Linked DNA regions of Homo sapiens: region 1 is linked to region 2. The links come from fine-mapping of genetic effects on gene expression. Tissue or cell type: whole blood. Region 2 holds a variant in brackets; the other region holds the start of a gene. All regions are shown on one strand. Distances are between the middles of the regions.

Region 1 (8,107 bases), 110 kb after region 2:
AACTGACTCCATCTAAAGCTTAAGAGTTACCTTTTTTCAAGTAGATGAAAATATATAATACAGAAAATATTTAACTTGACCTACTAAAGAAGGAAAATGCTTAAAATAGGAAATACAAATAACGTATTTTTTAATTTGTAGTGTTTTAAACATGACAAGTTATTGAACAAGGTTGTATAACTGCCCCTGCAGGAAATATTACAGTCAAGACTGATAGCCAAACCATCCACATTAAATTCAGCAAAGCCAAATTTGGAAGTAGTAAGCTAGTACCAATGGCCTCCAAGGCTACTAGGATTACAGACACACAATAAGTTCACATTCATTTGCACTTTTTCTGAACAAAATACCAAACAAAATTAAAAATGGGTCCATAACGATTATTTTAATCTACTTACTACTCTTATAACAGCTAATCCTAAAACAAAGAGGGGTGGAATTACATGGTTAGCTAGAATCTTGAGTTAGGGTTAACCCAACTTGATCAGCTTTCAACACTTCATTAAATAGACTCACAAGCTGATTAATGTATTTGATCTGTTTTCATTGTAGTTGCTTATGTATGTAAAAGTACTTACAAGCAATGCATTGGCCAAAAGAAATATGAATGACTTTTTTCCTTGCTCAAAAAGTATTCCTGACATTCCAATGAACTAAAAAGCAAGTCGTTGTAGACATATAATCAGTTCAATGCTGTCCCTCAAATATTAAATATTCAAATATCAAAATGGTTTAATCGTTTTACCTTTGTGAATAATGAAAATACCAACACTTCATTACAAGTCCTTTTCACACCATCCTGAACACTTGAGGTCTCTACTGTTGCTTGCATAGTCTACCACTTTCAAGAGCTGGCTGGCCCTTCCCACTCTGCTTCACAGATTCAAGTTCATGAGGTACAGCATTTAATAATGATAACATTCTGGGTTTCTTTGGGACTTTTTTGCTTTTTGTTGTTTTTAAATTAAGAATCAGAGCATAAAGCACTATTTCCTTTTGAATACAGTAACAAATTATAAAGTCCTTAACAACAAAAATTTCTTAGATATTACATAGAAAGTGACTAAGGACTACTGGCCACTTCAGATAAATTCACTTTAAAAAGGCACAACACTTCCATATCATATAGTTTAAAAAAGATTGGGGATTTTTTATCTTGAATAAAAAGAACCAATAAATATTTTACAAAATCTGGGATCTTTTACAAAATCTGGGATACAGTTACAGAAGTGCTAATTCTTAGAATGACCAAAGAATAAATCCAGTGTTAATGGGGAGCCCCTTGGAGTAATTTTTCTGGCAAGATTCTATTAGAACACCTTCATTTTCACATTTGAATGTTTCGGTATGATCATAAAATGGGTCATTTTTGCATAATGTTCAAGGGTTTCATCTGTTTCCCCAAGGACCTCTTAATCCTTTAATATTACAATTATTCTTTTGAGATGCCTATCCTGTCATGATTCTTCAATTATCTAGCTAAGTGGCATTTCCTCATTTGTCAAAGCCTTTGTGATTTAAACAATTATCAAATTCATGTTTACGAATTTCATGAAAACCAGAATCTTCTACAAGGTTTATAATTTTATTTCACAATCAGTGCACAGTATTTGATACTGTCTTCTGATACTAAACATCAAAGAGATTGATTCATTTAAAAAAAATAAAATAGGTAAGAAGCTAGTGTTAAGCAGAAGGGACATCTGAGAGGGAACTAATTTTTTAAGTGGTCAGCTCATTCGTGAGTATTTTCATGTTAAGATGAGTTTTACTTCCTTAGGCAATCTCTAAACTTCAAGAATTAAGATAATAAACACTCTTTACACTCACCCCTATTATGATTTCCTAACATAATAGCCTCTAAACTATGGCAGGAACTTGACTCATAATTCCAGTAGTGGGCTCAAATAAGAATTACTTTCCTAAAGTTGAATGTTTGCTATTCTAACATCAAAATCCCAGTTTCAACTCTATAAATTCCCAAACACTGGAATTCTTTACAGCCTCGTTCTAGGCCGGCTTCTCCTCTGAACACACCCTTCTTAAGTGGTCTCATCTGTCCTCATGCTTTAAAATACCAGCTATAAATAAAGGTACTAACTTCCAAATACGTATTTTCAGTGCAGATCTTTCCTCTCATCTCCACTTGGCATCTCTCCTGTGTCTCAGTAGTTATCTCACACTAGCAGTCCAAGACCAAACACTTGTTCCCAAATTCCCGTCTCACCTCTACAAAAAAAGATTGTTTTCTGCCCCAAGTTTTCCTCAGCTCAATAATGGACCCTACCTAGTTGCTCAAACCAAAAGCCTAGGCATTTCTCCTTTCTCTCACATTCCTTCAAACACCACCAGAGTATTTACTGAAGCTGCCCATTCTCCTTCATTTTCACCAAACCAACCTTCCCTTCCCGTCTACTGCAATCAGCTATTTTCCATCATTCTTACCTCCCTCTCTTACACCATTCTTCATAGAACAGCCTATTGTATTTTTTAAGAGACTGTGTTCCTCCTCCACTTCTGTTCAATGGCTTCATATTCACTTAAATTAAAATTCAAACGTTTACCACGGCTTTCAATGACCTGAATGATGTGCCTGCTGCCCTCCTTTCCAATCTCACTTCAGGACTCCTACCCTCTGGCTATTAGGAGGCTGCAGCTGACTTCACTGTATCTTCCTACCTCAGTGCCTTCGCACTTGCTGGAAATGCTCTTCCTCTTGCTTTTTTCCCAGGGCTGGGTTCTTCTCATCCATCAGATCTTAGCTTCCACAAAGACCATTCCTAACAACCCTCTCTGAAATTTCGTCCTATGAATCTCTCCACAGCACTCGTTTATTTTCTTCAAAATAATCCGCAAACATTAAAAAAATAATAAATTTAAAAAAAAAGAACGTATTGTCTGTGTTCCTCCATAAAACAGAAGTTCTATCACGGACCTGGTCCGTCTCGTTTACCATTCCATCTTCCATCTCCCGACCTATAGATATCTGCATGTATCTTGCATAAATAAACATACACACCTACATAAATAAACATACACACCTAATTATATAACCAAGTAGATATCTGATGAGTGAGGACAACTCAATACTCAAGAAAAAGCCTTTTTTTCTCTATTTGTGATACGGTCGCTATAAATGTATGGGGCACATAACTCCAAGAGCACTCATTCAATATCCAAGAACCACAAAGAAGCAAAAGCCAGAAAATACATAACAAAGGGTGGAGCCACTCTTACTTGGAGAAAAGTATGAGAATGCCTTGATTTTAAACTCCTCTTTGTAAATACCCTCAAATGATGAGTAAGGACCTCAGCCGAAGCGCGGGGCATGCTTTTGGTTTAGGTAGAAAAACTGCTCCGAGTTTGATTCCAAAAACTCTATCAGACTCCCTTCTTTCACCCCTCTAGTCCATAAAGGATCGGAGAGACGACAGGGGGTGACCACTGCAGCACCCGCCCAAAGCTGACTGAGACAGCAGGAAGTCTCCAACCCATTCTCGCCCGTCCACTCCCAGCGTAAAGAGGATTCCGCGACTCGGAGACCGCAATCTACCCGCCAGTCTCCATAACGTAGGCCAGAGCAGCTGGGCTAAATAAAACAGAGCCGGGGCTCTCCCTTCCCGAAGGCCTACATCGCCCACTGGTCCGGGCTCGGAGCTCAGCAGAACCAGAGTAGGAGCGGTTGTTGCCGGCACGGAGGAGGTAGGTACCACACCAGACGGTAGGCCAGGAAACCGCAGGCCCCTGCCGGGCACAGGAAGGCATCTGTGAGATTTCTTCTCACTGCCACACCCTAGTGTTGTGGGGCGAGCATAATCCCTTTTGCCTGCTGTGCGACCAGCCCCAGGCCGGCCAAGGGGGCTTGGAACCGGGACCCCCACTGCCTCCGCCTCCTTACCAGTGTGATCCATGATTCGGCTCGCAGAGCACAGTGGGAGCGGAAGTCAACCGCGCCGGAGTCGCAGCGAGCGCGTGCGCACTGCCTTCCGGAGGCCGGGAGGCGGAAGTCCAAGCAGGTTGTCCCAATTTTGGCCTGCAAAGACTTCCTTCTCTCGCCTCTACTATCCAACTCCTGTGAGGGACTCAGGCATAGTTCGGGCGGAGGCAGAAAGAGCGAGCGCGCGAAGAACTTCGGTATTGAGGTTGCTAAGGCTTCTCCTCATGTGCTTCAAGAGAAAGTAGCCTTTAACTGTGGAAAGGACACCAGGGGGACCGGGGAAGGGGAGAGCAGTGGTAAAAATGAGCCAGAAGCAGATAAGGCGACTGCCCGCCCCGCGGAGAGCTGCCTTCTGGGACTTGTAGTGCGCGGGGCCCCCGGAGCCGGCTGGCTGCGCAGGCTCGGCCGTTGCGCTGGCCCCACCCCGGCGGGCGGAGTAACGGTTTGGAATCCCCCGGGGTCAGCGAGCGCTTGTTTCCTCCGCCTGGTGTAGCAAAAGTGTAAACACGCGCGCTCCGGAAGGCGCCCTCCAGTGGGAGGTTGCTCAGGGGATGGCGGAGCTGTGAAACTCGGAGCTAGAAGGAAAGTCTCAACGCTTGTCTAAATTTTGCTTTGTCGTGACGAGCTACCTAGACCCACGCAGAGCTAACTTGGTATATGCCCCGGTTCCCATCTCTTAAGTCTCTTTACAGTTGAAACACGTTTATAATGCTTGACTGCCACTCACTTTCTAGGGAGAGCGCTTGTGACGCTACGAACCTCTCGAACACCTGACGACTGGGCGCCAGGGCCGGATGGAGGGTGGAGAGCCAGTGCGGCGCAGCTGCCTCCTCTTAACGGGGACACCTTGCAGGAATGTGCGGAGTGGAGCTAACGGGAGCGGATAGAAACCGAGGGAGGGGAAGAGAGCGCGAAGGCTTGGCCGGAAGGAGAGGTTAAAAAGGAAAGGCCTAAAATGAGGAAGAGAGTTACCACAACAAGCAGTACCTAGTTCCAGTTCTTGGTCCCAGGAGTTTGTGGTTGTTGCTGCTTTCATCTTCCTCAGCCAACACAAAAGGAAAGTGCCAAGGGGCGATTCCTAGGACCTTCAGTGCAGTCTCCACCTTGCGGACTTGGCTCATTTGTGTCCACTCCTTTCTCCAGCCTTTTACACTTGATGCTCTTGGATGAATAGAAAGGAGCACAATTAATGGAAAACACAAGCTTGGGAGTCAAGGGATTTGGGTTCTATTCTTGTCCTCCCTTGGTGACGACATCATTACCTTGGGTTATTCAAGCTTTCAGTGCCAGAGTTCCTATATCAATAAAAGATTATTACATTGACCTCTTAGAGAAATGTTTTCATGGTACTGAATTGCAAATAAAGTATGTGTAGCGATGTGTTATATCTTTGTAGTTGTACGGTATTATTTGTGAATCATGCTGTGATGATCAGTGCGATTTAAGTGCACCATGTTATTTGGTGATTATTTTCCTGAGATCTTGTAAAAGATTTTTCTGCTCTATATATGCAGCTTTATAAACAAGTTTTTAGGTACATTCACAACTAAGGACATTTGTGAATCAAAATTACCCCTGCTTTTTTTAAATGTAAAGTTCTGTATTGCTAGGTGGTTTTCAAGATGCTTTCAGTTTCTGGGATTATTGTTTTGGGCATTGGGGCTTGCCTAACCTTTTTCCCATACCTCCCTATTTTTCTAAATACAGTGTTGATATAGTCAGGCATTTTTCACCAATTTGGGTTTTTTTTTTTTTTTTAAGTTTTCACTTAGAAAGTACTTCTTTTTCATATTAAAAAAATTTTTTTTAGAGATGGGGCAGCCCAAACTGGAACACAATGGCAGAATCATAGCTCACTGCATCCTTGGACTCCCGGGCTCAAGGGGTCCTTATGCCTCAGCCTCCGGAGTAGTTGGGACTACAGATGCTCATCACCACCACTGGCTTTGATTTTTTTGTTCTATCATACTTAGCCTATCAGCTAACGGTTAACCTTCAGATTCATGGAAATCCAGGTTCAGAATAGTATTATTAATGTCTGCTGATGCTAATATTTAAATAATTAGAATTAAAAAGAGCTTTCAAATTGTATTTTATATAATTTAACCTGTAAGTTAGAAGTTTTGTTGGCATTTTATGGTGCATCAAGAAAATTTACTGAGAGAAGATGTACTTACTTTAGATCTGATAAAATGTTAAACATTTGTTTGATTTGATTTGACATCTCTTACTTTCAGGCATTGCTTTAGCATCTGTGGTCTGTATTTACCCCCTTAATTGTGGTTGCCTTGAATTACCAATGCAGTAGCAGTGTGATAAATTAATTTCTTTACCTATGTTTTATTACTGCCCTCTAGTATCTCTTTTCAGCGACCAGCGTGCTGTAACCAGTCACAATTTCTTTATCAAGAGTTGCCATTAATATTTATTTATAGAGCATAAGGTTTATATTGCTTATATATAAGCTATATATAGTTTAGGTGCTGACCTAAGGTTTATAAAAGTGAAAACTTACTGTAATGGGCAGTCTGAAGCACTGAGGTGCACCTTTTTATCTTACTGGCAAGACCATCTACTACCTATGAATTATAAGGTAGTGGTCTCCAAGATGTTTTGATAGCCTCCCATTTACATAGTTACTGTTTATGCTATGAGAAAAGTAAGAGGGGTATCAGAGAGCTTGTTTTCCCCAATAGCCTGTTACGGACTCCTCAGTACCAAGTAAGGACAAAAACCTTCATCTCCTAACACTCTTTCAACTGTATCCCACTGAGTGCCTGCCTAGGACTGCATAAGGCAAAAGCTGTATAAATAATGGCCCCTACTTCAAGGATCCTACAGGATATCATTTTAAGAAATATGTGAAGATCTATATAATTTAGTTCTAAGTGTTGAGAGGAAATTCAGTGCTACTTACATTTAGATAAAGTAGTGGGACTGAGAGTAGTTAGGTTAGCTTTATGGAGGGATTTAAGCTGAGCCTTATGTGAATGGATAAAATTTGGAGAGGAGGAGAGCAATAAAAGGCATATCACACAGAGAAAAGCAAGGGCACAGATGTGAGAATTGTATGGTTTCTATAGAGGACAGTGAAGAGCTTTATTTGTACTGTTGATCCATGTTTGGGAGTTCTAAAAAAATAAGTTATTATGGAGCACCTTGAAAAAGTAAGATTTCAGAGTAACAGTAAAGAAATAGAGCATTTAACAAAACCCAGCATAATATATTCATAGAAACAATATAATCCAGCAAAATATATTCAAAAACAATGAGCAAATCTTAACTTGGGGTGGGGAGATGAATCAGTTGATGAACAATCAGTCAGAATTAAAGTGTAATACTATTACACCTAGACCAAGAACAATTGACCAGGAAGCCAGCGATACCTATGATAGCCAAAATGCCATGAAGTATGAATGAATTGTTAGTAAAAAAAAAAAAACGGATCCAGGTAGTGTCCAGTATATATTAATACGTTTGATAAGCAGAAATGGAAAAGGCAGTAAAATATCCTGGTTAGATATATGCCTTATCAAGCTATGGCAGCCAGCTTTTCAAACACCATGAAAAACTGGGCAAGAGGCAGATTCAGAGAATAAGAGGGAAATAGACTGTAAAAACAGAATGTTGCTGATTGAAGGCATTGTCCCGTTCCTGTCTCGAAGGAGATTCATTCTCGTTGAGGCCTGGCAATATATGTACTCATTTGAAAAGGAACCTTTTGATCTAGAGAGGTCCTGCAGCCTTCCTTCTTTTCTGAGAAGGAAAATTTTGTTGTGGATATCCTTTGAGCTGGATAGACCTGTCCCTCCCTACAGCTTCTTTGCTAATATAATTGCCTCCAGTTCACTCCTAAAAGAATGCTTAGGGTATTAAACTGCTCTGTAGTAAGCAATTAGTCTGTATATTGTTTCCTAAACTTAAGAAGGCTTTTGTTCAAGGGCCCCTGACCCTAACCTCAGCTGCCACTCCATGCCAGTTGAAAAAGGCTTTCAGCCTTCCTTGGTGCTATGGTTTGAATGAAGGTATTCCTCCAAAATTCATATGTTGGAACTTAAACCCCAAGGTGGTGATATTAAGAGGTGGGGCCTTTTGGGAAGTGATTTAGCTGTGAGGGCTTTGCTGTCATGAATGGTATTGCCGTTAGAGTCCTCAGAGAGCTGCCTGTGA
Region 2 (8,107 bases):
GCTCCCGGGGTTTCTGCACTCAGAATATGTGTACATGGAGATTGTTCACAAAGGGCCAATATGAGAGCGTTTCTACAAACCATTCGGTGCTTATTCCAGGGTAAGTGAAAGATCTGTCAGGCAATTAAATAAAATCCAGTTTGTTGAGGTATAACTTGCGTACACACAATTTATCCTGTTTAGCCAACCAATTCTATGATTTTTAACACGAAACTGCCATCAGAAACAAAATATAGAAGGGTTCCATCATCCAAAAAAGTTCCCTTATGTCCCTTTATAGTCAGCCCTTAACATCCCAAACCCAGTTTCTGGTAACTACTGATCTATTTTTTATCCCTATGGTTTTGTCTTTTCCAGAATGCCATGTAGGTGGAACTTTACACTATGTAGTTGAGAGTCATGCATGTGGTTCCCTAATCATTCGTTCATTTATCGGGTAAATTTTACTGAATGTTAAATTTGTTAAGTTATCAGATAGTCAATAAATATGTATTAGGCTGGGTACTGCTCCAGGTATGGGGGGACAGGAGTGGGAACAGCAGGGACCGCAAGGATCTGAGTTCCTGCCTTCAATGAGCTCATGTTCTCATATTGGGCTGGTTTGTGGGTTGGGGGAAAACAAGCAAAAAACACATAAACAGGGCTTTAAAATAATTTAGTTTTAAGTCCTGCTAAGTGCCAGACGTGGCTCTAATAGGATAATGAGAGAGTGGTAGAAATGGGCAGAGAGGCCGGGTGCAGTGGGTCACGCCTGTAATCCCAGCACTTTGGGAGGCCGAGGTGGGCAGATCACGAGGTCAGGAGATCCGGACCATCCTGGCCAACACGGTGAAACCCCGTCTCTACTGAAAACACAAAAAATTAGCTGGGCGTGGTGGCGGGCGCCTGTAGTCCCAGCTACTCCAGAGCCTGAGGCAGGAGAATCACTTGAACCCGGGAGGCAGAGGTTGCAGTGAGCCGAGATTGCACCACCGCATTCCAGCCTGGGTGACAAGCAAGACTCCATCTCAACAAAAAAAAGAAGTGGGCAGAGAGTGCTGATTTATCTAGAGTGGTTTGTTGAGTGGATGTGAATTGAGACCCAGATAATGAGAGGGGGACAGCCGTGCAAAGATCTAGGCAAGAGGCACGCAGCAGAAGGAGGAACAAGTGCAAAGGCCCAGAGCAGGGCTGAGCTTGGTGCATTCGTTCAAGAGATAGAAAGCTGAAGGGACTGGAGTGCTGAGGACCAGGAAGCAAGTTGTGGGTCACTTGGGAGAGCCATGAAGGAGCCCAATCAGGCGGGTTTGGTAGGCCAAGACTGGAGGGTAAGTTTTTCTCTAGTTGTAAGAGGAAGCCTTGGAGAGTTTTAAACCAGAGAGTTATGTAACCTGATTTACACCTGGTAAAGATACCTCTGCCTGCTGCGTGTTGTATGGACTGTGCTTGACAGGGAGGAGAGTGGGATAAGACTGGAGGCAGGAGATGGGCCTGGAGGCTTCCTCAGTGTTGAAGGGGGAGCTGACGGTGACTTGAACCAGATTGTGGCACTGCAAATGGTGAGAAGTGTTGGAACTTACTACTTTCGTGGTGTGGTGGATAAAGAAAAAGAATCCCAAAAGCAGTTACATTTTAGTATTTATTTTAAAAGCTGACTTCAAAAATCTCATTGATGCAAATCTGGAGAAATACACAAAAGTTTAAAACTCTCTATAATACAAAGTAGGTTGGTGACTAATTTGCACAATGCAAGTAAACTAGTCTTGATACTCGAGGTCAAAAAGCCTAAACTTGGGGATTAATTTAGTTTTGCTGTATACACTGACGGAAATAATCCAGTAGCCTCCATAGCCCCCACTCCACTTTGTGTTATGAGGACAGCAGGCAGTCAGCACACATGCACTGACTCATATGATACCCACATTCAAAGAGCTTTAACGTGTTGGTTGGATTCCAAAGTAAAAAGAATAGAGACTCATTGCCATGGTTGTACCTGGTCAAGGTCACACCCCAGCCACACTTCTGAGCCATTTGGCTTAGAAATGGGAAACATTATAAAGTTGAGTCAGGAATATGGCAAACCTCCAACCAGAGTAAACTATTTAAAAAATTCACATTTTCTTGTGGCCTTCAGTTTTTTCTCCTTGACATCCTCTGTTCTATCAAGACATTAAGTCCCATGGCCCATGCAAAAGACACTTGGTGCTGTGTTCTGAGATTATCATTTTGATCTACATCTGACTACCATTTTTCCAGCCAAGACCAGCCTTCCTTGTAAATAAAGATCTGTTCAGAGGATATGAAAGAATACATATTCAAGGAGTGCTCTATTCCTTTAGCTGTTCAAAGGATTTGAGGACTTTGTTTGTTTTGAAACAAGTAACCGGCTTTCTCTAACCACGTAACCTCAACCTCACAGGACAGCCAGCAGGAAGTCAGAAATGAAGAACAGCCGATGACCTGGGTGCACTCTCTGGGTGCAGCCTGCTGTTGTCCTGTCCCCACCCTTGTCCTGTTTTTCACTTGTCTTGTTGTTTTTAAGAAAAATTTTTGTCTGCTCTGAGGATCTTCTGCTGATCTCAGGTTTTTCTTTCAGGTAATACATATGACAGGTGCTGGACAGAGCTGAACTGGAACAAGGGTCTGCAGCCATTCACAGAGGGCATGTCAATCTGTGTTCACTCAGGCAGGAGGCAGGAACATGCAGGATGGGAATGGGAAAGTAAACAGGAGTGGCCATGGACTCCTGGCCTCTTCTCTCCATGAGGTTTTCTCACCGAGAGCCTGCTCCAGGGAAGGTGGTTGGCCAAGGCCTGGGGAGCAGCTTTGTGAGGCCTAGGAAGACCCCAGAAGAGGACTTTGCTGAGAAGAGAGCAGACAAGAAGTCAGGAGTGGGGTGAGAGCAGCTTCTCCCTCTCCTTCGCACACTTGTACATAGGCATTCTCCCTCTATTTCCAGCTCCTGCACCCAAGCTATAAAAACAAGTATGGCCTACTGTAAGGCATTCCACAATAAAGACCTCATTCCTTCTGAAAACTTTTCACACTATAAGAAGCTTCTTCTGAAAGGCAAGCGCAGTCACTAGCAACTAACACTGTAGCCACTGCTATTCATCTTTCTAGGTATTAAATAACATCTATTTGAGGGCAAGAGCGGAACACAAGAGACATATCCAGAAGGAGAAAAGAGAGAGAAAATGAAAAGGGAATTAATTGGTGAAGTGGGATGTACCAATTTTTCCTCAGGGTTGCCTGTATTCAAAATACAAAAATACTCTGTGAGTATGAAAGTATTCAAAAATATTCGGTGAGCAATTTTCAGTGTACATTATTTATCAAATAAGCATTTTTTTCTGCACCTTGGCACATAATAGGTGCTCAATAAAAGTTATTGTTATTACTGGTATTAGTACTGTTGCTGTAATGCTATTACTGCATGCCATGTTAACATACTGTTCTGGGTTCTAGGGATAGAGAGGGGCAAAACCTAGTCTGTGTCCTCAAGAACTTACAGCCCAGAAGGGGGACAAGTGAGTTAGTGGCAGGTCCTGACACAGTGTTAATAAATGCTGTGATTAATGTCAGCATTAATAATATGACTAATGCTATTAATGTCAGCATAAACGCTGAGCCAGAATGGACCAGACTTTTATGGGAGTCTATAGGAGAAACACTGGCTAGGAGTGGGGCAGGGATGAGCACTGCTTTCCAAGAAAATAGTCACTGAGAGGAGTCTCAAAAGACAAATAGAAACTGGCCAGGTATATCAAAGGCTTTCTTTTTGTTAAGAAACAGGGTCTTGTTCTGCAGCCTCAAACTCCTGGGCTCAAGTGATCCTCCTGCCTCAGCCTCCCTAGTAGCTTTGACTACAGGCATGCACCATCATGCCCAGCTGTTTTTTGGTAGAGATGGGGTCTGCTATGTTGTCCAGGCTGATCTTGAATTCCTGGCCTCAAGGGATCCTTCCACCTTGGCCTTCCAAAGGTGCTGGGATTACAGGCATGAGCCACTGTGCCCAGCCAGTCAGAGTCTTCATTGCAAGTGACAGAAACAGACTGGCCATTTTAAGCAGAGAATGTATAGAGAGACTATCAGATGATCATACAATTTCTAGGAAACATGGAGAACAAGATTTGGGAAAGTGGTGCCAGTGAGGTGAGGATGCCATTGGTGGTGTGGCATCACAGACTGGCTGCTGGAAATCACATGCTGCTGCCCCCCTCACTCCTGCCAACCACCACGGCCAAAGGGAGTCTTCCTTGCCCTGCTTGTTTGTATCATTACTTCCAGATTCAATATTGCTAATAGGTGCAGCTGATGGACCAAGCCAAGGCTATCTCCCCACATCTTATCTGCCAAGGTAGCGGCAGATTGAGTGCTGGGTCTTTTCAACTTCTGTAAAGGAAGACAAGCACTGTCTCCCAACAAGGCTCACAAGTGAGGAATGTCCTCACACATTTGGAGAGGATCCAGAGGACATGAGTCAACACGTGCCAAAGACTCTCCACCA[C/G]GTGAAGCAGGGAGGAAAGGGTCTAGTGGAGAGGGAACATGACCTGGGGGTGTTGGGGGTAAGACACAGCATAATGGAGGATGAGGACAATAACTCACTTTGACTGGAGCATGGATTATGAGAGGGAGATAACTGAAGAGGAAGCTGGAAAGGTAGAGAGTCTAGACCAAAGAAAAGCCTTGTATATTCTGTGCCTGACGAGGAGTTTGGTCTCTATTTTGTGAAAGAAGACATAGCGATTTATATTTAGGGCTTTGGAGGGGAATAGAGGTGGGGTAGGGGTTGGCAAGGAAGATCAGAGTTTCGAAATTTGAGACGTGCACTCACAAGTCTTCCCAGAGAACATCTTCTCTGTAGTTCTAGGTCAAGGACATTTATTTAGCTTTTGTCATCATCTTGCCAACCATGGCTTTCCATTCTGCCTTTTTGCATCATAAGTTAACTTCACCTTCCCCAGATTGCATCTATCACACAGGCTGATTTTGGGCTATGCATTGTTCTTGTATTTGAGGGATATGTAGACACAGGTGGAAACTGGCCAGGATTGCAAGAACTGGTTTGTTTAGAGCCAACACAAACACCCAGCTACATCTATATTTTCACAATAGTATGTACACTGCACTAAGACACAGAGGCAAATTGTGAAAAGCATATATCCTCTTGTGATCTTAATTCATTGGGAAAAAGTACAATATAGAGATGTCTGCAGGTGTCACAGAGTAAAGTGGAGGCGTAACAACAATCCAGTTAGTGGGGGGCTGTTGTTCTGATAGGAATTTGTAGGCTAGAATGGGAATTTAGTAGAAAACTAGTTTCCCATCTCCTGGAGAGTCAAAGCTGTCTCCTTTCAGGCCAGGAGAAAACACAAGGATGAATAACATCTGGGGAGGCGATGCTCTGGGTGAGGCACCAGGAGTTGGTGCAATCACAGACGTTGTCTGCAGCACTTGTGTGAAAAGGCAAAGAGGAAACCCATTTCCATCTTCATCAGGGGCAAAAGAAAGAAACTAATTCAGACTCAGTTCAACATGTCTTTCCAATTCACCATCTCTCCCCTACCTGCCCAATCACACCTGCCCACAGAATGAACCATTACAGCAATCTCTGTAAAATGACCTCCGGTCCCCTAGTTCAGGAAGAGGTGATGTTCGGGGGTACATGGTTGATGAGTGCAAGGGTAGGAACACCCCCAAACCCTAAGACATCTTCTCAGTGAGCCCCACCTCAGCTGCCTCTGCTTCCCAGGTCCTTCTCTGCGTTTGTTAACGTCTGGAATTCCTTGGTTGGAACAGATAACAGCATCTCAATAAGTGAGGGTGATTCTTGTACGGTTCTTGACAGCAAAGGATGCCAGACGTTTCGTGATTTTGAGTCTAGAAAACTCTATAATTTCTTTGTGAGGTCTCACAAAAGTTTAAAGTGAGAATGCTTTGGATAGCTATATCTGTATATGTTTCTATGCAGATTTAGAACTTATGAATTTTAAAGGATTTTTTAAAAATTTAAACTAGGATTTAAAAAGTGAGTAGAATCTTCCCTGCCTTAATAGCTTCAGTTCTGACAGAATTACCTTGTTAGCCAATGAATCTAGCTGAGATTTCAAAAAGTATTTTTTAGGCTGGGCGCAGTGGCTCATGCCTGTAATCCCAGCACTTTGGGAGGCCTAGGTGGGTGGATCACTTGAGCTCAGGAGTCCAAGACCAGCAAGATGGCAAAACCCCGTCTCTACAAAAAATACAAAAGTTAGCCGGGTGTAATGGCATGCATCTGTAATCCCAGCTACTCAGGAAGCTGAGATGGAACGATTGCTTGAGTCCAGGAGCAGGAGGTTGCAGTGGGCCGAGACCTGCCACTGCACTCCAGCCTGGGTAATAGAGTGAGACTCTGTCTCAAAAAAAAAAAGAAAAAAAAAAAAAAGAAAGAAAAAAAGAAAAGAAAAAGCATTTTTGGGGAGCTAGGGAGTAAATCACTTGGTTCCTTATGTAAACCACATTATTCATTAGATAAATATCAGATGTAGACTTAAATGTCCAAGGCTTCTTGAGGAGCACCTTGGAAAACCACCCATACGTGAATGGTGAAATGGGCATCTCTGTTCCTCATCATCCTGGGTGTGGGGTAGAGTGGGGCTTATGAAAATTTCAGCCCCAATGTCAAAACACAGTGCAATGATTTTGGGGAAAACATGGCTAACAGCGTATTTTCTCAACTCAGTCACAGTTTTGTAGATACAAGCACAGTCACATGAATATAACTCACGTTTCTTTTTTTTTTTTTTTTTCGGTTTCCTTACAGTAAGAGCCATACTCTTACCCTCTTACACTGGAGTATTCTGGCTGAGCTTGAGTGATGTGCTCTGGGTCAGTTTAGAGACCAAGATATTCCTGGCACTTCTCCACATTAGGCAATTTTTTAAATGTTTATTTTTTAATTATATGCTTTACCTTGAACACTTGAAGAAAGAAAATAATTACAATGATTTCAAAATGCAATCCCTAGACTTAATGAATATTCTTTATAATTATACCCAGTCAATATATAGAAATGCATAGAAATACTAAGTCAACTAACAAAATAAGTCAAAGAACTATGTAAACTATAAATCTTAGTGATGGGGAACATACACTCAAGTCACTTATTTATCTACTTTGGTAGAGACAGGGTCTCAATATATTGTCCAGACTGGTCCTGACCTCAAGCAATCCTTCTGCCTCGACCCCCCAAAGTGCTGGGATTATAGGCGTGAACCACCATTCCCGGCCCCACTTTGTTTTTTTAAAACATGATTCACCTGTGTTTCAATTCCATGCATTCATTGCAAGAGTTAAATGAGACTACTGAGTCTAACAATGTAAACCTGAGTCTCAACACTAATGTTCATAGCAGCATTATTCACAAAACCAAAAGGTAGGAACAACCCAGATGTCCATTAATGGAAAAATTAAATGTGGAATAAACATACAATGGAACATTATTCAGCCTTAAAAAGGAATCCAATTCTGACACATGCTACAACATGGTTGAACCTTGAAAACATTAGGCTAAATAAAATAAGCAAGACACAGAAGGACAAATTTGTATGATTCCACCTACCTTGAGTAGTCAAATTCACAGAGACAGAAAGTAGAATAGTGGTTGCCAGGAGCTGGGGAGAGGGAAGACTGGGGAGTTACCATTTAATGGGTGGTTTTTGTTTAGGATGATGGAAAAGTTCTGGAGACAGATAGTGGTTCACAATGATGTGAATGTATTTAATGCCACTGAAAATGTATAATCAATATATACTTAATGATTAAAATGGTAAATCTTTTTGTTGTTGCTGTTGTTGTTGTTGTTATTGTTGTTGTTTTGTTTGAGACAGTCTTGCTCTGTCACCCAGGCTGGAGTGCAGTGACATGATCTTGGCTCACTGCAACCTCCGCCTCCCAGGTTCAAGCAATTCTTGTGCCTCAGCCTCCCAAGTAGCTGAGATTACAGACGCCCACCACCACGCCTGGCTAATTTTTTGGGTTTTTTTTTTTTTTTGTATTTTTAGTAGAAATGGGGTTTCACCATGTTGGCCAGGCTGGTCTCCAACTCCCGACCTCAGATGGTCTGCCCGACTCAGCCTCCCAAAGT

Evidence for each region. PIP is the estimated chance that this variant, and not a neighbour inherited with it, causes the effect.
Region 1: it holds the start of CBLL1, and the variant in region 2 is fine-mapped to the expression of CBLL1 in whole blood (TOPMed, PIP above 0.99).

The regions. Positions count from the first base shown.
Region 1 is chr7:107,739,968-107,748,074 of GRCh38, reverse strand. CBLL1 (Cbl proto-oncogene like 1) reads right to left here and starts at 3,933. Exons shown (of 6, transcript NM_024814.4): 1 at 3,899-3,933. The coding sequence starts at 3,911. It overlaps CBLL1-AS1 (CBLL1 antisense RNA 1), which reads left to right and starts at 3,494. Exons shown (of 2, transcript NR_144537.1): 1 at 3,494-3,702; 2 at 4,672-5,322. RefSeq lists enhancers at 3,459-3,638, 3,989-4,208, 4,306-4,824, 4,825-5,344 and a silencer at 4,249-4,448.
Region 2 is chr7:107,851,585-107,859,691 of GRCh38, reverse strand. LOC105375444 (a long non-coding RNA gene) reads left to right here. Exons shown (of 3, transcript XR_927850.3): 3 at 2,576-3,213. Among named protein-coding and RNA genes, the nearest start is that of DLD, 36 kb to the left of the region's middle. The variant C/G (reference allele first, on the strand shown) is at 4,490.